Homo sapiens: one gene and its partners. The protein of the gene in region 2 interacts with the protein of the main gene of each other region in a pairwise test. Each region holds a gene or a part of one and is shown on either strand. Other genes may lie near its edges.

Region 1 (2,315 bases), on a different chromosome or scaffold from region 2:
AATATGTGGGGTTTGTGGAATAAAACGTTAAGGTACCAAAAGTCTACTGAGCCTTCTATCTATGATAGCTTCTCATTAATTCATTTAAGGTCTAAATACATATATGATGCATAGTCGCAGTTTAAATGTTTAAAGACATCACAAGTATGGATTAAAATGATATATTTTGTAAGAGTGGTAATTATTAATAGTTAAATGAGTTCACTATTATATAACATAAGAATAGGAATTATAATATGGATGGGGTAAAAAGTAGAAATTTAAATTGTGCTGTCCTACCTGATAGTGGGGCAACATGAATTTTAAACTGTTTTTAGAAAAAAGAACTGTTTATAAAATACAAAATGCTGGGGAAATTTTTTTTAAAAAAGAAACACTGATACATGTATGTGTAATCAAGTTGTCACATGATTATTTATGAAGCAGGTTACCTGGATCCTTTTTTTTTTTTTTTTTTGACACAGAGTCTCACTCTGTGACCCAGGCTAGAGTGCAGTGGCATAATCATGGCTTACTGCAGCCCTGACCTCCTGGACTCAACCAGTCCTCCCACCTCGGCCTCACAAGTAGCTGGAACTATAGGCGCATCTCACCATGCCTGGCTAATTTTTTAAAAAATTTTTGTAAAGATGGGGTCTCACTATGTTGCTTAGGCTGGTCTTGAACTCCTGGTCTCAAGTAATCCTTCCACCTCAGCCTGCCAAAGCTGAGATTACAGGGCTCAGCCACTGTGCTTGGCCCCTGGATTCTTTCTGCCTAAATGATGAGCAAGAAAAATAAGGGTAGCAGGGTACAGCGATCTCCAAAATATATAGAAACTGATGGTGATGACGGACATTTACTACCTTAAATTATGTGCTACTATAGTTCAACATCAAAATATTCCCTATAAAATAAATACAAGAAACAAAATATTTACACATTTTATTGAAATGCTTTGTATTTTTCCATTTTGACAGGACAGTTTGGAATAAAATAATACAATTGATTGTAGAAGGATACACACCAAACTATATTTAGAGGTTTTGTCTGGGGAATGAGATTGAGGAAACAGGGCTTTTTACCTTTCACCTTCTACATTTCTGTATATGATTACTTTTGTTAAACTGATCATACATTACCTTTGTCATTAGGAAAGATTATAAGCAATTCAACAACTGAACAAACATTGTATAGCCTTACTCTATCCCTACAGGAGCTGACCTACTGAAGGGTAAAGAAGAGTCTAGCTGAGTGGATTGAGGGCCGCTGAGAGAACAATCTTGTTGGTTAAGGTTAAAAGTATATACCCAGAATAGACAAGGAGCTAGTCCTACTCAGATGGGGATTAAGTTTGCTCACCTATCAAGGTGCTCCAGTGGATTTCTGTATTTGTTCCTTTAAAATCAGGATACTCTGCCTTTGCTCAGGAGGCAACATGGCAATCTGGTCTGCAGTCAGTTGTAGAACCTGCATAATCAAAGCAGCCTGTGCAGAGGAAAAAAAAAAGGTAGTGAGTTTTAATGATGGCAGCTAAAAAATACAAAACAAAACAAAAAACCCACCACCAGCTTCTGTCCAAAAAGCTACTGTAGTGGGATATGAAGCAAAATGGAAAAAGGAAGAACATTTCACACAGAAAAAAACCAACAGCCCCCCTCCAAAAAAAATAAAAAATAAAAAAAAACTGGTGAGAAAAGGTACAATGAAAAGAACAAGTATAAATTAAAATACCTAAGATTAGACGATTCAAAACAGACAACTTCATGAACTCAAAGTTCCTGGAGACTAAGATGGTATCTGTGAGCCCTGGAAATCCTTCAAGTTTTAATCCTGTTTTGAAAGTCTCTCTTTTTCACAAATTTTAGCCTTTCCATCAGACATAAGCTCCCCACAATGGTCAAATATAAAAACAGAAAGATATAATCATGGGGAATCTACTATTGTTTTTAGGGATAAAGTAGAAAGGGAAGGAAAAAGGGTGTGGATTTTCAGGTCAATCTGGCCTGAACAAGAAAAACCTGCTATTGGCAGATGAGTGTGAAATATAAAATAAGCTGCCATTTACATCCACTTAAGAACTTCACATCCATTAGGAACTTCAGGACCAGACTCACAAATTTTCAGGTAACAAGATCATAAAAGAGTTCTAAGTTAGAATAAACATCACCTCCAAAGGGACTTTGAAGACCCAGGATCGTCACATGGTAACTGTGAAAAGAGGAATCAAAAAGGCTAGAATTGTGCATAAGGAGGCAGTCAGACAGTGTTGCTTACCTTCTCATGATCCTGTGGAGTGACTTGGTTCTGCCCGGGACTAAAGCCGCCAGGCTGGC
Region 2 (3,500 bases):
AGCACTTTGGGAGGCCGAGGCGGGGAGATCACGAGGTGAGGAGTTTGAGACCAGCCTGACCAACATGGTGAAACTCCGTCTCTACTAAAAATACAAAAATTAGCCAGGCGTGGTGGTGTGAACCTGTAATCCCGGCGACTCAGGAGGTTGAGACAGGAGAATCGCTTGAACCCGGGAAGCAGAGATTGCAGTGAACCGAGATCGCACCACTGCACTCCAGCCTGGGCAACAGAGTGAGACTCCATCTCACCAAAAAAAAAAAAAAGAAAAAAAAAATGAACCATGAGAACCAGGGGTTTGGGTTAAACCCAAAAATAGAACAATAGAACAATAAGGCATCTGGGGCCAGGCACGGTGGCTCATGCCCGTAATCCCAACACTTTGGGAGGCCAAGATGGGCAAATCACCTGAGATCAGGAGTTTGAGACCAGCCTGGCCAACATGGTGAAACCCCATCTCTACTAAAAATACAAAAATAATCCAGGAGTGGTGGCATGAACCTGTAATCCCAGCTACTAGGGAGGCTGAGACAGGAGAATTGCTTGAGCCCAGGAGGCGGAGGTTGCAGTGAGCCGAGATGGTACCATTGCACTCCAGCCTGGGCAAAAGAGTGAGACTCTGTCTCAAAAAATAATAACAATAATAATAAGGCACCTGATCATTTTCAATCACTGAAACACCTTAGCACGCCCTAAAGAGACCAGTCAGGACTGGAACCTGGGACACAAGGAGGGATTTGGACCCAGAATTCTGAGGCCCATCTCAAGACTCCCAACACGAAATACCCTCACTCCACTTTCTTTAAGGTCTTGCCTACAGAGAACACAAGCCAAATTCAATTATTTCCTAATGTACACACTGTCTTCCTGGGTTAGACTGTGAGCCCTTTGGGGGAGTGGAGGAGATAGGTGATATCTTCTCCCTTTCTGACCCCCTGTCTGTCACAGTGTGCTGCTCACCACCACTGCTCGGTAAACGTTGATGAGTCCCCTGCAGGGTTGGTAGGGCACTGAAACGGGCAGGGTTGGAGGTTGGAGGCACCCAGTCTTCCACCTGGTTGTTCACCTACCTTGAGAGGCATCTGGTTTCCCTTCTCTATCCGGCTGCTCTGCAGGCTCAGCCCTTTCTCTTTCCGCCTCTTTTTCATCAGTTCTCGCTGCTCCTTCTGCTTGTTCTGAACCTCAATAAGCACCGTGATAAAGGAGTTCTTCACTTCCTTCTCAAACTCCAGCTCGTCCCGGCGGGCCAGCTGCTGCACCAGCTCCTCCGAGAAGTCACGGATGGCACCCTCCACCTGGTCCAGCAGCTCGGTCAGCTCAGACCCAGACATGTGCCTCAGCCCTGCAGGGGAAGACCGTCTCCCGCATAACACCTGCATCCACACCAGAGCCCGCTGGGGAGGCTCCTGGGGCCACCACCAATCAAGATGGGACTGCCCCTCAGAGGAGATCCCTTCCAACTCCTTAAAGATCCAAGAAAGACCTTCACAATTTACGAGCACGCCAGGAAGGCGGGGGCCTGTGTACTGACTGCAGAAGAGAACACCCCTCTCAGGAAACAAAGGAGGAAGAAGAAACAGCCCACGAGGAAGTCTGTGGACTCTATTCTCAAAAATGGGGATGGTTTGTTCCTTCTATTTTCTATCTGTGTCCATAAGATTCCTTGTGTGAAATGGGTCAAGAATTGGGGATGGAAAAGTGATGGGAGGGAGGTTTTTGTCATCCATACTGAAGAGCAATAGAGACGTTGGTGCTTATTCCCAAGAACTGATCAAGATATAGCATACGGCAACAACAACAAAAAAGCCGACCATCTGAGCCCTTCTTTACATCTCTGGTCCTGTGTCGCAGTGCATGTATTCAAAAATATGTGAAACCTGGAAGATTGGTGACTATGCATGAAAAAATAAAGCCTAGCGGGTTAGCATACGGCAGTCAGCTACTTTCAAAGGAAAGAAAAGGGAAGCTGAGATCATGGGAAATATATAACTTTAAGAAGTCTCCTAAGACTTCTTTCATTTAAAATAGATTTGGATATTTTATTCCAAATTTTTCTGTTTACATGTTATATATTTTCATAGTTGAGATTATACTTGTATACAGGTCTAAATCATGCTTTAAAACTTTATACACTTTAGGCCAGGAGCAGTGGCTCATGCCTGTAATCCCAGCATATTGGAAGGCTGCGATGTGCGGATCACCTGAGGTCAGGAGTTCGAAAACAGCCTGGCCAGCATAGTGAAACCCTGCCTCTACTTAAAATACAAAATTAGCCAGGCATGGTGGTGCCTGACTATAATTCCAGCTATTCGGCAGAGTGAGGCAGGAGAACCGCTTGAACCTGAGAGGCGGAGGTTGCAGTGAGCAGAGATCACACCACTGTACTCTAGCCTGGGCAACAACAAGAGCAAAACTCTATCTTAAAATAAAAATAAATAAATAAATAAATAAATAAAAACTTTATACCCTTTAAGCATTTTCTGATTAAAAATTCTTTTAAACACTTAAAAAAAAATTTAGGCCAGGTGCAGTGGCTCACACCTGTAATCCCAGCACTTTGAGAGGCTGAGGTGGGTGGGTCACCTGAGGCCAGGAGTTCGAGACCAGCCTGGCCAACATGGTGAAACTGTTTCTACTTTAAAAAAAAAAAAAAAAAAAAAAAAAAATATATATATATATATATATATGTATATATACACATATATATGTATATATACACATATATGTGTATATATGTATATATATACACATATATATAATTTGAAAAAATAAAATATACTTGGGAAACATCTTTTAAAATGTGTCTCCATCTAATGGTATCTTTTTGCGGCAGGGGAGGAAGAATTAATTGATTGACTGGTTTTTAATTTTTAATTTTTGTGGGTACATAGGGGGTGTATGTGTTTATGGAGCACATGAGATGTTTGGATGCAGACATGCAATGCATAATAATCACATCATGGAGAATGAGGTATCCACTCCCTAAGGCATTTTTCCTTTATGTCACAAACAATCCAATTATACTCTTTTAGTTATTTTCAAATGTACAGCGTCTAATGGTGTCCTTCACTTTCACCTCAGAATCCATTTCCCTCTTCCTCTTTGTTTCTGCTTTGCCCGGATATTTGCTGACTTGGTTGGGCTTTCCCCTTATTCTGCTCTTTGGAGCTGCCCTCTCCCCCTTCTGTTTTTTTGCCATTTCACTCTGCATTTCAGCTGTTTTCACAAGTCTTTTGCTGAACGCGTCTATCTTTGGGACCTTTGTGTGGCTGGGAAGGGCCTGACAAGGGCAGTCGGGAATGCAGCGAGGCAGCCAAGTCCAGTTCAGCACCGAGCAGACTCTCTGCCGGCCACCTCCTGCCGCTGCTATTCAAAGCCAAAGTCTGACTTGCAGGATGCAGGCCTCCAGATTCTGCCTCTGCTTTCACCACTTCTAACCCGCAGTTGACCTTTGAACCCTGACCAACCCACCTTCTCCCTCCCCTGTTTCTAAGTTCCCAT
Region 3 (3,500 bases), on a different chromosome or scaffold from region 2:
TTCTTCAGTATCACTTAGGCATTCAAAAAATTCTTCTTCGCTGTCACTCCAGGAATCCCAAGATTTTCCTACCTCTCCCTTTTCCTTATCTGTTTCTTTTAGATTATCTGGCACCAACTGGTCTCCTGCTTTTCCAGCATCCCCTGGATATATATTAGTGACATCTGAAGCACTTGTCTTTTTCCCCTCATCACGTGCCTTCTTTCTTTCAATACAACAATTTAACATCTTAAGAAAAGAGAAATAACATTTATAGTTGAATTAGTTACAGAAAAATAAAAATCTACCTACTGCTTGAATATTTAATTTTCACTCTCCACTTCTCAGGACCTTGTGAATTGCAGTGACTACTGACTATAGGCAACCTACAGCAGCACCATGAGAACAGCATGTAACCCATTATTACATTTAGTATTAGAATAATCTGATTAAATCAAGACCACATTTATCCATGTCATTGAGAAATCTTTACCTGTAGTTTCTGATGCAGTAAACAACACCTCAGATCTGGGGGTCCACTTGCTAATCTATCAAATAAAGTAAGGAGAAAAGAAAGCTTAGTTTTAGTAAAATTGCTTCAGATATGATTATTTTCTATACTACCATAATTTTTAGCTATATTGATAAGAAATCAAAACTAGATTTCCACAGGTAAGGTAAGTGAATTCCAGAGGGGGAGCACATAGAATTAAAAGATGAAAATTTATTTTATACTCCTTGTCCACAAATCACCAATAGCAAATATAATAGATATTTCAAAACATAACAGCAAATTAGTGATAGTTTTCAGGCTAACAAAAACTCAAAATGAGAAAAAGCCCCTGAACCCACTCCAGGAAGTACTAGCATACAGTATTTCACACCATACAAAATAAATCAGTTTGTGTATTCAGTACTAAATTCTTACAGTGGATTCTCACTATAAAAACCAAGATCTCCACCTGTATTTCAATAGGACCTTGGACTGTCTCTAGTTCTAGGTTCCTCTAGACTACTAGGTTCCCAGCAATCAGCCAGAGGCACTCCCTCATATTCAACATGCTTCTGGGTCTGTAAAATGTTCCAGAGCGGACTGTCTAAAACCAAGAGAGAATCCAGCTAAGCAGAGATTGGCAAATGATATAAATGTTTTTGGATCAGTAATCATTTTATATTGCTCAAAATCATGATTCTCCTATCATAGCATGGGTAGATGAGCACTAAACTATGCAATATCAACCTATGTGCTAATGAAAATGTTCTGTTTGATTAAGTAAAATGTCAATTACAAAAAACAGGTTTATTACAAAAGACTTTGAAAATGCATAAAAGTATAAAGAACAAAATAAAAGTATAATTTCACACTGGGAAAAACTGATAGCATTTCACAGTATTTATAATATTTTTCCTGTACAAATATAGCAACATAATTAAAAGTACTTTGTATATGCATTAAAATATTCTACTTTATTAGAAACAATATGAACATCTGTTATTAAAGATTATTGGGGGAAAAACTGTAATCAATCTAATTTTCTATTGTAGAGATACAGTATAATTTATTTAACTATTCTTTTATGTTTGATATTTAGGTTTTGCCTTTTTTTCTATTATATTAATAAATTTGCTGCAGTGAACACCTCTGAACATAAATCATGTCTAAGCTTCTTGCCACTTTCTTAGGGCAGACTTCCTAGAAGGGGGAAAAAATAGGTCAAAAGTCAAATGTCTGCTAACAAACAAAATCGTATCCAAACAATTGAAAATTGAAATTATTACCCTGGAATCAGAAAGTTGTTTTCCCATCGGAAACGCATTTCAAGAACAAATTCCTGCCAGAGGTGTGCCACTCCTTTCAACCCTCCATGGTAAAAATTGATCATACAGAGACACAAAGCCAGTTTGTATGTTAAACTGTCAGATGGTGCAGACTTGAACTGATTGTAGAGATTCTAAATTTAACAAAATAGAAACAAAGCAAACTTGTTACCAAAATATTTTACACATATAACTGAAAAGGTCGTAGGGAGAGATTTTAATTGTAAAATTAACCTATCCCACCTAAACTAGGCATTATCAAATGTCTAATACACTACTGCATAAACTATTCTTAGGAAGTCCCACATTTTCAAGATTTCTACTAAGATTAAAAAAGATAAAGCTATAGTTTAATGAAGCTAAAGTTACAGCTTTCAATTTCTTCTGTGGAATATTTAGGAAGTATTCCAAATTTCATGTGTTGTTTTAAAAATCTTTTAATTACAAAAATGAGCACGTCTGAAAAAACAAAAATCATAACTATCTAAACTGAAAATGTAAAAAGCCTTTGCTTTTTTCTCTCACCTCATCAAATCTACTTCTCAACAATAACTACTGTAAAGGTTGATATATATCTACACTTGTCATTTAAATTCTTCAACTTCTTAATTTTTCAAAGACTAGACAAAGAGACCATGAAAATTTTACCTAATTTTACACATTTTACTTCATTAAAGAGTTGTCCATTCACTAACTAGTTTTAAAATATCAAAAAGAATCTGCTGAGAAACACAAATTTAATGATTTCACCAAAACTCTACAATGAGGGAAATCCTACAGCTGTGTAGAGTATATTTGTGCTATTTTTTCATTGTTTCCAGAAAAATTCTTGCTACCCAAAATATGTATCTGTGCTAGTTATCTAAGTGGAAACCACGATCTGCCATCCAAAATTCCCAAGGTGATTTTTAAAATAAAAATATAGTAAGCTATTAAACTAGAAATATATAGAACCTCTAGAAATTCAGTGCATTTAAAACATTTTAACATTGAACTCCACATCAACTTACATAGTCTTCACTCTCTGATGGAGGATTATTATTATCTGTTGAAGTAGTTCCATCTAATGGTTTCTCAGAAACAGCATCAGGGAATAAGAACTTGAAGGAAAGGAAAAAAATAATCACATTTTAGACCACATTTCCTATTTTGTTGATTTTTATAACTCATATAGACATTATTTAACTTTTTAATGGTTTTGCTGCTCTAACAATAGAAATGTTCCAGTTGTATTGGCCAGTTTGTTCTACACTCTCAAATTTTTTCTATTTTTCTTTGAAAATATACAAGGTTTCAGTGACTAGCCAATTTTAGAAATTAGAATTTTTTTCTTAAAAGTAATCACTTGATTCTGTAAGCTGAAAGGTGCAAAAGCAAAATCTCATCACTGTGACTTCATGCTCACCCAAGGCCATTACATTTTTTTAGTGTTACTACTATCTAAAAAACAAAACCACAAAAGACAATTTAAAAACACTCATGTACTCATGAGGATCTGAAGAGTTACATCATCCACAGGCTTTCATATATAGACTACTAAGAGATGATATTCAAGACCCACAGCTTTATTTTATGATACCCCTGGAAAGTAGGAAGCAGTCTAAACCTATAATAACCAATGTACCTTTTCCATGTGGTTTCTGTTTATATGTACATGTACGAGTGGTCAAAAAAAAATCCAGTGTACATGACAACTGAGCTAC
Region 4 (3,500 bases), on a different chromosome or scaffold from region 2:
AGCAAAGCCATCACCTCTTCTTCCATGGAATACAACTATGGATTATTCCAAACAATTGAGCCCAACTACCCAGGCTGTTCCAGCTTCTGAGCTCAAGGATTTGCTGCTCAATTTAAAATTAAACAAATGTCTCTGGCAAATCCTCAGCTGGGCTGTGAGAAGCACAGATCGGAACGCCAGGCAGGGCTGATGGGGAACAGGCTGTCAGTGCCCCCTGAGGACGTGCGATCTGTGCAGGTACCCTGGGGACTGGATGGGATGGTGGACGTGCGACCACGCTCCTCAGGGGTGGGATGACGTGGACCCCACATCTACCCCCAGCAGCATGGGCCAGAGGGTCCCGGCCATGGACGCCTCCTGAGTCATCAAACACGTGAACTGTGGTGTGTGGCCAAGAAAGGGGCAGCAACGAATGTAAACGTGAGCGGCCGCCTGCAGCTGGGGCTGGGGCTGGGGCTGGAGCTCTGCACAGCCCAGGACGAGGCCCCGGAACAAGGGCTATCAGCGAGGGCACTCCGGTTACTGCAGGTGTTTCCGATGGCCCGGCCTGGCGGCACGGGGCGGACCCACAGACACGTCGCTGGGTGCTTCCGACAGCCCAGCCTGGCGGCACAGGGCAACCCACAGACATGTCATTACGATGGCTGACGGCCGGGCAGGGGAGGCTCCTCCTCTCCACTCCCGCATCTCCCAAGTGCTCTTACGTTTTCAGATGCCTGGCAGATGTGGGCCTGTGCCAGCTCTGTGGCGATGGCTGCCAGGTGCGGCTGGAGGGCTTCTCGGGGGCAACCCCGCATGGCGGAGGCCAGCACCAGGAGGCCGGAGGCAGAGGGCGTCTTCTTCAGCGTCGATAAGATCAGCTTCAGAAACACCTCAGGGCTGACAAACGTCCCGACGAGCTCTGCGGATCTGGTACACTGCGAGAAAGAAACATGAGAAAACTCAGAGCCAAACCCGAGGGTCTCAGCCGGGCTCCTGCTCTCGGCGCCGTGGCCTCCCAGACACAGCCGTGCACCAGACAGAGCCCCGTGTTAGGCAGAGTGAGTCCTTGGCACATGCTCAGAGCCCTCAGGAAAGGTACAAGGGTCCGGGTGTGGTCTCAGAACGTCCCTGAGGCCAGCGAGCCGGACACGCCTCCCAGGCAGTGAAGTCTGGCCCAAAGGATGCTGTGTCCCAGCTGTGGGGTTCACCACACACCCCTCATCGGACACCAGTGACCCAACCTTCCCATCACTAAGCTGATCAATACACACCAGCCCCTCTGTACCGTGGAAGCCCACAGTGGATCACACACTCACCAGCCCCTCTGCACCGTGGGATTCCACAGTGGACACCACACACCAGCCCCTCTGCACCGTGGGATTCCACAGCGGATCACACACACACCAGCCCCTCTGCACTGTGGGATTCCACAGCGGATCACACACACACCAGCCCCTCTGCACCATGGGATTCCACAGTGGACACCACACACCAGCCCCTCTGCACCATGGGATTCCACAGCGGATCACACACACACCAGCCCCTCTGCACCGTGGGATTCCACAGCGGATCACACACACACCAGCCCCTCTGCACCATGGGATTCCACAGTGGATCACACACACACCAGCCCCTCTGCACCGTGGGATTCCACAGCGGATCACACATACACCAGCCCCTCTGCACCGTGGGATTTCACACCGGATCACACACACCAGCCCCTCTGCACTGTGGGATTCCACAGTGGATCACACACACACCAGCCCCTCTGCACCGTGGGATTCCACAGCGGATCCCACACACGTCTCTCGTCCTCTCAGCCTCACCCCCGTGTCTCTTGCTCTCCTGTAGGTTCCACAGAGAACTACAGACAATTTTAAATTCACGGTAGTTTTTGAAAAGCAGAAACATGACATGTAAATAACATGGAACCTGGAACATTTACTTTAAATCAGTCACAATGATTTAGATTTTTTTGTTTTATCTGAGACAGCGTCTCATTCCGTCGCCCAGGCTGGAGAGTAGTGGCGCAATCATAGCTCACTGAGGCCTCAAACTCCCGGGCTCAAGCGATCCTCCCACCTCAGCCTCCCGGGAGCTGGAACCACAGGTGCACGCCACTACGCTGGGCTAGTAACAGTGACCTGGACCACTAGAAGTAAAAGCTGCTGGCCAGGCTACCTTGCAATGGAATTTAAGGTTCAAGATGAGGATATTTTCAACTGAAATCTCAAGTCAAAGCTTTAGTTGTTCTCCTGAGCACTAGGAAGCATCCTTGTGAGGTGGGTGTGAAGTCCTCATGGTGGTGACTGTCAGCGCAGGGCGTGGCCCGGCCTAGTGAGGAGGAGAGGCCTGAGCATGGGACTCCCTCGTGCGTACCCAGTGGTGACGAGGCGATAACCAGCAGCCGAGTGTGGACAGGGAGTGAGAAAGAGGACTGCACCAGGGACACCACTCGCAGGACACCCGAAGCTGTGCCATCATCCCCCGTCTGGGTGCTCCCACAGCCCCTGCGAGGCCTGGAAGGGCCCTCAGGACAGTCCAGATGTCAATGCTGAACGCTGGGCATCTCGGTCCTGTGTCAGCAGCCCGGGCCCTGTCTGTCTGGTGCACGGCACGTCTACACAACACGTCTACACAACATGCACCTGGCACTGCACCCCCGAGTGTGCTTGAAAATGAGCATGAAGGGTTCACCCTCAACACGCTGTTACCTACGGGCACAGAAAGGAGATCAGTTGTTCCCAGGGGCTGGGTGTGGGGAGGGCCTGCGGCCCGGGGGTGAGGGGAACGCTGTCTTGGCTACAGTACAGCCTCGGGCCCCGCACACCACAGAGGCGGGATCTTAAGCTCGAGTTACAGCTCCGCGACCACGACTGGAATACGGCCACTTACACTTTGGACCACGGCTGCCTCCTCGTCGGTGCAGGCCTGGAACAGGGTCCGGAGGACGACCTCCAGGTGCTGCGTGGCGTGGTCCTCGGCATGCAGCAGCAGCACTGGGAGCAGCTGTGCCGACTTCACTCGGGTCCCCACCACCCAGTCGGTGATGTCGTGGCACAGGGCAGGGAGGATCTTGGAGAGGTTCCTGAAGACGAGCTCCCGGCAGCCCAGCACAGGGCGGCGCTCTGGAACGAAAAAGGGAAAGAAGAATGAGAAATTCACAAGCAAAACCTCAACAACTCAAGTTACCGCACATCACATTTAAGGGACACCTGTGAGTTTCAACCTCACCATTTCAAAACAAGTCTTGGGGTGGACGCAAAGCTGACAAATGCCCCGTCGTTCAGAACATTCACAGAGGCGGTGCACGGCTGCAGTCCTAGCCCTGTGGAGGCCAAGGCAGGTGGATCACTAGAGCCCAGGAAGTCAAGACCAGCCTGGGCAACATGGCAAAGACCCCATCTCTATAAAAAACAGGAAGATTAGCCAGGTGCCGTGGTGCATGCCTGTGGTCCCAGCTACGCAGGAGTCTGAGGTGGGAGGATTGCGCCACAGCACTCCAGCCTGGGTGACAG
Region 5 (3,500 bases), on a different chromosome or scaffold from region 2:
GGGCCAGGTGTGGTGGTTCACATCTGTAATCCCAACACTTTGGAAGGCTGGGCACTAGGATTGCTTGAGGCCAGGTAAGAACAGTTTAGGCAACATAGCAAAACCCCACCTCTACAAAAAATAAAATAAAATAGAGACCACTGGCCACAATCTTATTTCTTTCCTTTTCACACATAGTTGAAAACACAATTCATACCCAAAGGAAAAAAAAGCATTATATTAAAAAGACACCTGCACTTGTATATTGATCGCAGCACTATTCATGATAGCAAAGTCATGGAACCCACCTAAGTGTCTACCAACAGATGATCAGACAAAGAAAATGGGGTGTATATATACACTGTGGAATACAAATGAAATGTTAAAAAATAATGAAATCATGTCTTTTGTAGCAACATGAATGGAGCTGGAGGCCATTATCCTAAGTGAACTCAGAGGCAGAAAATCATATATCGCATGTTCTCACTTACAAGTGGGTACACAAGGACATTAAGATGGAAATAACAGACACTGGGAACTCCAAAAAGGGGTAGGATGGGAGAGGACTGAAGGTTTAAAAATTATCTACTGGGCACTGTGTTCAATATCACGGTGATGGGTACACTAGAAGCCCAATCTCCACCATTACTCATGCAATACCCATGTAACAAATAAGCCTATGTGCCCTCTGAATCTAAAATAAAAAAAAAAAAAAAAAAATTCAACATCATTGCTGGCACATAAGAGATAATTAAGTAGTAAATGTTATGTAAATAACAGACAGTTCACAGAATCTGGCTATTTCATGAAATGCATCTCATGAAGCAGAAATGAGTAAATCTTTTAGAAAAATAAAAAGCTGCACTTGATTTACGTAATTATAGCCTTCACAAATAAACCTATTATAAAATACATAAAATGACAAAGTTTTACAAATATTTATAGTTCATATAATTTATTTTCTGAATATAAAAAAGTATTTACGATTTACTAGTATGAATTTGGAAACCCTTCTGAAGACAAAAACAGTCATTTGAAAGCTACATATGAGCTTCTGTTCCTGGTCCTCTTTTTATCAACTACAGACTGTGACTCTGTCCAATCTCCTAAGATTATTAAATGTTTTTCTGTCAACAAGTGAAATAGCACCCTGAATTGTATACTACAGTTTAAAAATACACAGGTCCTATATATTATAAAAAGAACCTGATATGTACATCTAACCTCCCCCACACTCATTATTGGTGAATAACAAAAAATTGGTAGGTGAATAAATGACCTGAAAGAAAAGTAAATCCTATGCAAAAAATTAAAGTAAACAATAATAGGTGACTACTGGTGGGAAACGTCGCAAAATGAAGTCGATTAGCTAGGCACTAAGTCAGAGATAGAATCTCAATTATTTGTATCAGGACCCTTTTAAACTTTTTTTTTTTTTTTTTTCAGACAGTCTCGCTCTGTCACCCTGGCTGGAGTACAGTGGCACAATCTCAGCTCACTGCAACCTCCGCCTCTCGGTTCAAGCAATTCTCCCACTTCAGCTTCCTGAGTAGCTGGGATTACAGGCACGTGCCACTGTGCCTGGCTAATTTTTGTATTTTTAGTAGAGATGGAGTTTCGCCATGTTGGTCAGGCTGGTCTCAAACTCCTGACCACAAGTGATCCTCCTGGCCTTGGCCTCCCAAAGTGCTGGGATTACAGGCATGAGCCACCACACCCAGCCTAAACTCTTAAGAATTATGCAGAGGCTGGGTACAGTGGCTCATATCTATAATCTCAGCACTTTGGGAGGGTGAGGAGCATCACTTGAGGCCAGGAGTTTGAGACCAGCCTGGGCAACACAGTGAGATCCTGTCTCTATATAAAAAATAAAATAAATTTTTAAAAATTACAATTAAAACCAAGACTCGTGAAAATATTTATGAATTCATTTTAAAATAAGTCATTTTATGTTTATGTAAATATTTTTTAAGAGAAACAGCTATATGATCCAAAATTTAAACTTTTATAAAAAAGAGTAGCCCCTTTTACATTTTTGCAAATCTCAATACCTGGCTTAACAAATGACAACCAGATACTCATTTATCTTTTCTGGCATTCAGTGTGTTGCAATATGTTCTTTAAGCAAAAGTACATGAAAAAAAAAAAAAAAACACAGCCTCACACTGACATCAAACTAGAAAAAGGAAAACCTCATAAATGCCTGTAAGAGGGGCTCAGGGACTTCCAGAGGTCCACAAACCACACTCTGAGATCCACAATACTAAGTATATAGTAGCTGCTCAATAAACTTAGTGAATGATATGGAAATAACAAAAGCAGTTATGCAGAAAGCTGAGTATAGGCTACTGTTACAAGTAAGACAAGTACTTAAAAAGCATGCTTACTATACTGTTAGGGTGTAAAGGATTAACATGATAAATATAGTATAAAACTCCTATTTCACAACTCAAGGAGACAGAATAAAATCACCTTCATATAGCAAATAGCCACATACTCGTATACACCCCAATAATAACAGTATCTCTCAAAATGGAAGAAAACATACTTTTAACCCTTTACCCATTGAGAAAAAAAAAGTACAGCTTGCTGCAAGGACTCATTTAATTTTACATAAACACGCTCTTTGAGGCCGAAGCAAATCTGACTTTCAAGGTGAAAATAAAATATAAAAACTGTTCTTGGAGTTATTTCTAAATAGAACTAACATCAGAATTGTTTGAATCATCAGATTCGTCTATTTCGAAAAAAAAAATCAGATTCAACAAACGAATCCTCGGGCAACAACTGTTCGAGAATGACAATACCATGTGCAGGACTGCTATGTTTTCTACGATTTGACATTTTCAGTGATTAACAATTACTATAGTTTGTAAATGAAAATATCACTATTAAAACCAGAATGCTATAAATAGAATGATGTCTTCTGTTTCCAAAGTCAATATGCCACAGCAATGCAAAAATAATAATAAAAGCTAGGTATTTTGTGGCAAAGTTATCTCAAGGTAAACACTGCAGCCAAGCACTACTGGCGAGTATTCACAGGACAGACAGGAAAAGGGTTAAATATAGCTGCATTGGCCAGGTGCAGTGGCTCACGCCTGTAATCCCAGCACTTTGGGAGGCCAAGGCGGGCGGATCACCTGAGGTCAGGAGTTTGAGACCAGCCTGGCCAACATGGTGAAACCCTGTTTCTACTAAAAATACAAAAAATTAGTCGAGTGTGGTGGCGTGTGCCTGTAATCCCAGCTACTGGGGAGGCTGAGGCAGGAGAATCGCTTGAACCCAGAAGGTGGAGGTTGCAATGAGCCGAAATCACACCATTGCACTCCAGCTTGGGCAACAAGAGTGAAACTCCGTCTCAAAATAATAATAATAAAAAATAGCTGCATCATCGATATATATAATAGGCAAATTCATAAAGAGTAGAATAGTGGTTACTAAGAGCTGGAAGGAGGGAATATGGGGAGTTACTGTTCAATGGGTTCAGAGTTTCTGTTTGGGATGATGAAAAAGTTCTG
Region 6 (3,500 bases), on a different chromosome or scaffold from region 2:
CCTCCCCAGAGGCACTCAGACAATTCCACATCCTATTTCATGGGGTTCATGGACTCCCTGAAGATGCCAGGGGAAAAGCCACAACCTAGCCCAGAGGAAGAGAAAAGGCACGGGGGACTGGCTGGTTGGCTGTTCAGCTTACCAAGCTTTGGCGGACGACAGAACAGTGTGGAGCTGGCTGGTCCACCCTGGCCCATCAGACCCTTCCTCCCGCTATGCTACAGTTGTTGGGGTGCTCCCCTGTCCCCCTGGAACCCCTGAGCTTCTGGAGGGCAGGGACCGCATCTGGTCCACCCTGGTAGCAGAATATGGCAATTGGTGAATGAGCCGAGGCCACCGTCTGAGGCCACTTAAAGACTTTAGAACCAAGAAGTATTACCCAGGGGCGAGAACGCAGTGGAGAAACCAGCGCCACCCCCACCAGCCACGCTTGGCTACGCCAGTCCTCCCTGCCATCTCTAGCTCCTTCTCCAAATGAGATTAGACCAGGAATGGAATCCGACTCTCTTTTTTTCTTTGGAGACAGTCTCGCACTGTCACCCAAGCTGGAGTGCAGTGGCACCAACTCCTGGGCTCAGGCGAACCCCCTGCCTTGGCCTCCCAAAGTGCTGGGATTACAAGCATGAGCCACCGCACCAGCCTGCGACTCTACTTCTCATTATGATGCCTGTGGCCTTGGGCAGGCACCTCCTCTCTTGAGCCTCAATGTCTGCATCTGTAAAATGGGAAACCAACCGTGTTCCTGGGAGGATTCCATCAGCTACTGCGGATACGCTGCCTGGCTCAGCTGAACGTGTGGCAGATGCCACGCGCCCGAGAAACATTAGCTCTTACCATCATGAGGTCTGAACTCTAGGTCTGGAGATTTTTTTTTTTTTTTTCCTTTTCCTTCTGGCAGCTTCTTGGCATCAACATAGACATGCCTGAAGAGCTGTTTTGGAGCCTGAAGGAAAAAACAGACCCTCCACCTTTCCCAGAATCCTCTGTCTTATTATTTCCTTTCCAACTCCAGGAGCAGACACGGATGGGGGGGACAGGAAGTGGGGCCAGCTCAAGGTGGTGAAGGACAACTGACTCAGGTGAATAATTCCCAAGAAGCCCTTCTCTCCGTCAGGTCCCACTTTGTACCTCGGTCCACACACCAGACACCACTTGGCTGCTGTCACCACGGGTGCGTGGGGAAGGTGAGCTCAATCACACCCCCGGGACGCCTTCGCTCGGGCTTTTCATATGAATCTTAACAATCTAGATGTGAGCCTTCTTGGCTCAGAAAAGATTCCTGGGAATACTCGTTTCCGGTTTAAATCAATCAATGAGACTCTAACAGGCAGGGAGAAGGAAGGTGGGCACGCAGACCTGATGATGCCCTGTGTGGCAAGCTGCTGCTCAGGCATATTTTTGGTGGGGCTGGGGAGATGCTGGGAGGGTTGGCAGCCGAGGACAGCTGGTGAGGGTGGCACTGGGTTTTCCAGTGGCTGCCTGTTCCTGAACAATACACCTTGAGTTTTAAAGTCCCCAGGGACTGTGCCCCTTTAACGTGAGCCTCTTATGCTCTCACTGAACCACCAAGTGCATACAAAGGTGAACAAGACACGTTCTTTCTGCTCTAGGGAGCTCCAAGTTTCGAAGGGGTGGCAGGTGACAGAGTTGACAAGTATAACATGGTGTGATGCCTGCTATTGCGGGCTCCAGGAGCGCTGAGGATGGGTGTTTAACCCTTAAAGGTCGGATGGAGAGATGGCTTTCTGGATGGGAGCAGCAGGTAAGCCAACCCCTGAACAATAATGAGCATTCGTTTCATAAAGAGACAGGGTTAACGCTGTGCGCGGTGGCTCACACCTGTAATCCCAGCACTTTGGGAGGCAGAGGCAGGCGGATCACTTAAGGTCAGGAGTTTCAGACCAGCCTGGCCGACATGGTGAAACCCTGTCTCTACTAAAAATACAAAAATTAGCCGAGCATGGTGGCGGGCACCTGTAATCCCAGCTACTCACGAGGCTGAGGCAGGAGAATTGCTTGAACCCAGGAGGCAGAGGTTTCAGTGAGCTGAGATCGCGCCACTGCACTCCAGCTTGGGCAACAAGAGTGAAAATTCATCTCAAAAAAAAAAAAAAAGAGAGAGAGACAAGGTTAAGAGGAAAGGTTTGAGTTTGTTTTTTCTTGTTTTTGTTTTTTGTGAGATGGAGTTCACTCTGTCGCCCAGGCTGGAGTACAGTGGCATGCTCTCAGCTCACCGCAACCTCCGCCACCCAGGTTCAAGCGATTCTCCGACCTCAGCCTCCCGAGTAGCTGGGATTACAGGCGTCTGCCACCGCGCACAGCTAATTTTTGTAGTTTTAGTAGAGACAGGGTTTCACTATCTTGGCCAGGCTGGTCTTGAACTCCTGACCTCATGATCTACCTGCCTTGGCCTCCCAAAGTGCTGGGATTATAGGCGTGAGCCACCACGCCCGGCCTAGACCTTACCCTGGGTGGAGACAGAGAAAGGCTCCCGTACGTAAACACCTGATTGTACACATCAAATGAAAACAGTGCTCCAGGCAGAGGAACAGCTTTTGTGCAAAGGCCTGAAGGTGAGAAAAAATACGGGAGTCTTTTCCTATCCCTTCTTGGTTCCTAGAAATTCAAGTGGCAGCTACACACAGTGAAAGCATGCTGGCAGTAAGAAAGCAGTCTTGGGGCCAGGCATGGTGGCTCATGCCTGTAACTCCAGCGCTTTCAAGAGGCTGAAGTGGGAGGATCACTTTGAGGCCAGGAATTTGAGACTAGTCTGATCAACATGGCAAGACCCCTGTCTCTACAGAAAAATTTAAAATTAGCTGGTGTGGTGGCGCACACCTGCAGTCATAGCTACTGGGAAGGCTGAGGTGGGAGGATCGCTGGAGCCCAGGAGTTCGAGGTTGCAGTGAGCTTGATCATGCCCCTTGCACTCCAGCCTGGGTGAGAGAGCAAGACCCTGCCTCAAAAACTAAAAATTAAAAAAAACTGTAAAAAAAGAAAGTAGGCTTGGGGATCCCATGATCTCCAACTCCTCCACTTAGCAGCTGTGGGACTGCAGGCAAGCTGGTTTACCTCTCTAAGCCTCAGTTTCCTCACCTGTAAAATGGCCCTAACACTGCCTTCCTGGGGGATCATTACTATAAAGAGTGTTATGCAGAGAGCACCAGCGTGGAGCCTGATGCTCAGCAGGTGCTTGGGGAATTATGTTCATTATCACCAGCCTCAGCCTGACCTTCTGGTCCTTTCTGGATGGTGTTCTCAGAAAGGGACCAAGCTGATTCCTCCCCAGAAAGTCAGGGGTCATCTTGGTCCTCAGGGAGGCGGGGGAGTCAGCAGCCCTGTGGGCTCAGTCTGTCCTCTGGCCACCTTACCCTGAGGCTTTTCTCCCTTTTTCTCAGGGAAGATTCCCAAGGGAATGGCCTTGGAGGAAGGGCCCTGCCTGACCCACTGGGTCTCTGGGAGCTGACGTTCCCATGCCAAGCCGATCGTCTCGCACGTAA
Region 7 (2,628 bases), on a different chromosome or scaffold from region 2:
GGTAAATTTTGCTGCTTGTCAAGGGCACACACATTGTTTCATTACCAACAAATACTGATCCTTCAGATCTAAATTTTGGGTTTGGTTTAACCTATTTAATGTAACAATGCTTCTTTTATTTTTATTTACTTATATATTTTAATTTTTTACTCTTCCTCTTAATTATTTACAGTGCTGCTTTTAAATAATATTTTGCATTCAGAAGATAGAGAAATGTTTGAGTCTTTCAGTTTCTAAGTCTGAAAGTTTGAGGCTTGTTCAGAATAGTGATAAGAAAAGAACACATTCAACCAAATGTTACTCTTCCTTTGTATGCTGTAAAGTATAGACAGAGCTCAAATATTAACTTTTTAAGAGATGAGACATTTCTGCAGTACTGTGATATTTGGCCTTTATTTAAGTGGTCTTATTTAAGGTCAACTCTAGTAAATCAAGATGTAAAGTTTTGAAAACTGAAGATGGAATTGCTTTCATTTCCTAATAAGAGATGCTTTATAAAATTAAGGTTGTTTCATCAATATTAGATATGTTCAGAGAAGTAACCTTTTGCCTGAAACTTATTTTAATGGCAGTCTCCATTTATCCACAGGTGGAGGAAACCTCAAGAGAAAGGGAGGAAAGGCTGAGAGGATGGGAGGCTTTCCTCAATGCTCCTGAGGCCAACAGAGGCCTTAGGCGTTCAGATTCTGTCTCTGCTTCCGAAAGGGCAGGGCCTTCTAGAGCAAGGCATTTTTCAGAGCACCCCAGCACATCTAAAATGAATGCTCAAGAAACTGCAACTGGAATGGCGTTTGAAGAACCTATAGATGAGAAGAAGTTTGAAAAGACAGAAGATGGGGGAGAATTTGAAGAAGGTGCTTCTGAAAACAATGCTAAGGAAAGTAGCCCCGAAAAAGAGGCTGAAGAAGGCTGCCCTGAAAAAGAATCTGAAGAGGGCTGCCCCAAAAGAGGGTTTGAAGGCAGCTGCTCCCAAAAAGAGTCTGAAGAAGGCAATCCCGTAAGAGGATCTGAAGAGGATAGTCCTAAAAAAGAGTCTAAAAAGAAGACACTCAAAAATGATTGTGAAGAGAATGGCCTTGCAAAGGAATCTGAAGATGACCTCAACAAGGAGTCTGAAGAGGAGGTTGGCCCCACAAAAGAGTCCGAAGAAGATGACTCAGAGAAAGAGTCTGATGAAGACTGCTCTGAAAAACAGTCTGAAGATGGCTCCGAAAGAGAATTTGAAGAAAATGGTCTCGAGAAAGATTTGGACGAGGAAGGTTCTGAAAAGGAGCTTCATGAAAATGTTCTTGACAAAGAGTTAGAAGAAAATGACTCTGAAAACTCCGAATTTGAAGATGACGGCTCTGAAAAAGTGTTAGATGAGGAAGGCTCTGAGAGAGAGTTTGACGAAGATTCAGATGAAAAGGAAGAAGAGGAGGATACATATGAAAAAGTATTTGATGATGAGTCTGATGAGAAAGAGGATGAAGAATATGCAGATGAAAAGGGGCTTGAAGCTGCTGATAAAAAGGCGGAAGAAGGTGATGCAGATGAAAAGCTGTTTGAAGAGTCAGATGACAAGGAAGATGAAGATGCAGATGGAAAGGAAGTTGAAGATGCTGACGAAAAGTTGTTCGAAGATGATGATTCCAATGAGAAGTTGTTTGATGAGGAGGAAGATTCCAGTGAGAAGTTGTTTGACGATTCTGATGAGAGGGGGACTTTGGGTGGTTTTGGGAGTGTTGAAGAAGGGCCCCTATCCACTGGCAGCAGCTTTATTCTCAGTAGCGATGATGATGACGATGATATTTAATCCCTTAAACTTGCTTTTTAGGGAGAGTCCTCCATCTACATTTGCCTGTGCTTCAGGGTAATTACTAGTAGTGTTACATGAACATGTGCATAGTGGTAGGATGCCATCAGATTAAAGCATTGAAGTGTTTCATTGTTACCTGTACCTAATGGTTTTAAATATATGTTAATTGATTGTTTAGTTAAAATGTCATAGTTACAATGCAAGTAAACTGGATACTTGTTCTTTTGTCAGATTTGTTAAATGCATGCAGAATAATATTTTTAAGAGTATTGATTGAAGTTTGTGATATTCATCAATAAAAATGAGTTGATAATATGCAGAAACTGAAAATTGGACTTGAGTTAAATTGCATTTTAAATTCTTGATATTGCTTTATTTATACTGAAGGTTGGCTTTTCTGAGGACTTGAAGAATCTCTTTGGAGTCTCCTTGCTTCCCGCTGGTATTAGCACGTATGTCTCCATTTCCTCTCTATAAACCAGAACATGTTCCTAAACTCAGAAAACAACCCTCTGGATTTTTTTTTTCTGCCCAGTCCTTGCAAATTAACTCTTGTTTGTTTTCTACCCTCTTTCCATTAAAATTGACTCTCAGATGTGCAAAAGTGAACTTCCTGCAGTCTACAGCTCCCATTATTATTAAAAATCTAAAGAAACAGATTAGAATTCTACCTTGTACTGTTAGCGTCTCTGGGCCCCTTTAGAAGTTAATTCAAATTAGAGGACCTCTTCCCAGAAAAAAATGTACACACTACACTACACAACTTGTGTACTGTTTGGGGAGGTTCATGGATTCCCTGAAGTTGAAGAACTTCATGCATGCTTCAGTTG

What was found.
Region 1: the proteins of FEZ1 (region 2) and CSTF2 interact in a two-hybrid assay, tested with the Homo sapiens proteins (one large-scale study listed by BioGRID and IntAct).
Region 3: the proteins of FEZ1 (region 2) and RAB3GAP1 interact in a two-hybrid assay, tested with the Homo sapiens proteins (one study listed by BioGRID).
Region 4: the proteins of FEZ1 (region 2) and DNAAF5 interact in a two-hybrid assay, tested with the Homo sapiens proteins (one large-scale study listed by BioGRID and IntAct).
Region 5: the proteins of FEZ1 (region 2) and PPP4R3B interact in a two-hybrid assay, tested with the Homo sapiens proteins (one large-scale study listed by BioGRID and IntAct).
Region 6: the proteins of FEZ1 (region 2) and TESC interact in a two-hybrid assay, tested with the Homo sapiens proteins (one large-scale study listed by IntAct).
Region 7: the proteins of FEZ1 (region 2) and HTATSF1 interact in a two-hybrid assay, tested with the Homo sapiens proteins (one large-scale study listed by BioGRID and IntAct).

What each region holds. Positions count from the first base shown.
Region 1 is NC_000023.11:100,837,391-100,839,705, reverse strand, and holds part of CSTF2 (cleavage stimulation factor subunit 2), read right to left. Parts: coding exon 2,257-2,315; intron 1,468-2,256; coding exon 1,345-1,467; 3' UTR 1,342-1,344; intron 1-1,341. UniProt on the Homo sapiens protein: One of the multiple factors required for polyadenylation and 3'-end cleavage of mammalian pre-mRNAs. This subunit is directly involved in the binding to pre-mRNAs.
Region 2 is NC_000011.10:125,454,766-125,458,265, forward strand, and holds part of FEZ1 (fasciculation and elongation protein zeta-1), read right to left. Parts: intron 1,342-3,500; coding exon 1,070-1,341; intron 1-1,069. UniProt on the Homo sapiens protein: May be involved in axonal outgrowth as component of the network of molecules that regulate cellular morphology and axon guidance machinery.
Region 3 is NC_000002.12:135,132,292-135,135,791, reverse strand, and holds part of RAB3GAP1 (rab3 GTPase-activating protein catalytic subunit), read right to left. Parts: intron 2,898-3,500; coding exon 2,808-2,897; intron 1,932-2,807; coding exon 1,759-1,931; intron 528-1,758; coding exon 473-527; intron 229-472; coding exon 1-228. UniProt on the Homo sapiens protein: Catalytic subunit of the Rab3 GTPase-activating (Rab3GAP) complex composed of RAB3GAP1 and RAB3GAP2, which has GTPase-activating protein (GAP) activity towards various Rab3 subfamily members (RAB3A, RAB3B, RAB3C and RAB3D), RAB5A and RAB43, and guanine nucleotide exchange factor (GEF) activity towards RAB18.
Region 4 is NC_000007.14:754,199-757,698, reverse strand, and holds part of DNAAF5 (dynein axonemal assembly factor 5), read right to left. Parts: intron 3,111-3,500; coding exon 2,878-3,110; intron 918-2,877; coding exon 705-917; intron 1-704. UniProt on the Homo sapiens protein: Cytoplasmic protein involved in the delivery of the dynein machinery to the motile cilium.
Region 5 is NC_000002.12:55,593,623-55,597,122, forward strand, and holds part of PPP4R3B (serine/threonine-protein phosphatase 4 regulatory subunit 3B), read right to left. Parts: intron 1-3,500. UniProt on the Homo sapiens protein: Regulatory subunit of serine/threonine-protein phosphatase 4 (PP4). May regulate the activity of PPP4C at centrosomal microtubule organizing centers.
Region 6 is NC_000012.12:117,092,917-117,096,416, forward strand, and holds part of TESC (calcineurin B homologous protein 3), read right to left. Parts: intron 773-3,500; exon of another isoform or gene 758-772; coding exon of another isoform or gene 736-757; intron 1-735. UniProt on the Homo sapiens protein: Functions as an integral cofactor in cell pH regulation by controlling plasma membrane-type Na(+)/H(+) exchange activity. Promotes the maturation, transport, cell surface stability and exchange activity of SLC9A1/NHE1 at the plasma membrane.
Region 7 is NC_000023.11:136,510,219-136,512,846, forward strand, and holds the end of HTATSF1 (17S U2 SnRNP complex component HTATSF1), read left to right. Parts: coding exon 1-1; intron 2-589; coding exon 590-1,795; 3' UTR 1,796-2,128; downstream 2,129-2,628. UniProt on the Homo sapiens protein: Component of the 17S U2 SnRNP complex of the spliceosome, a large ribonucleoprotein complex that removes introns from transcribed pre-mRNAs.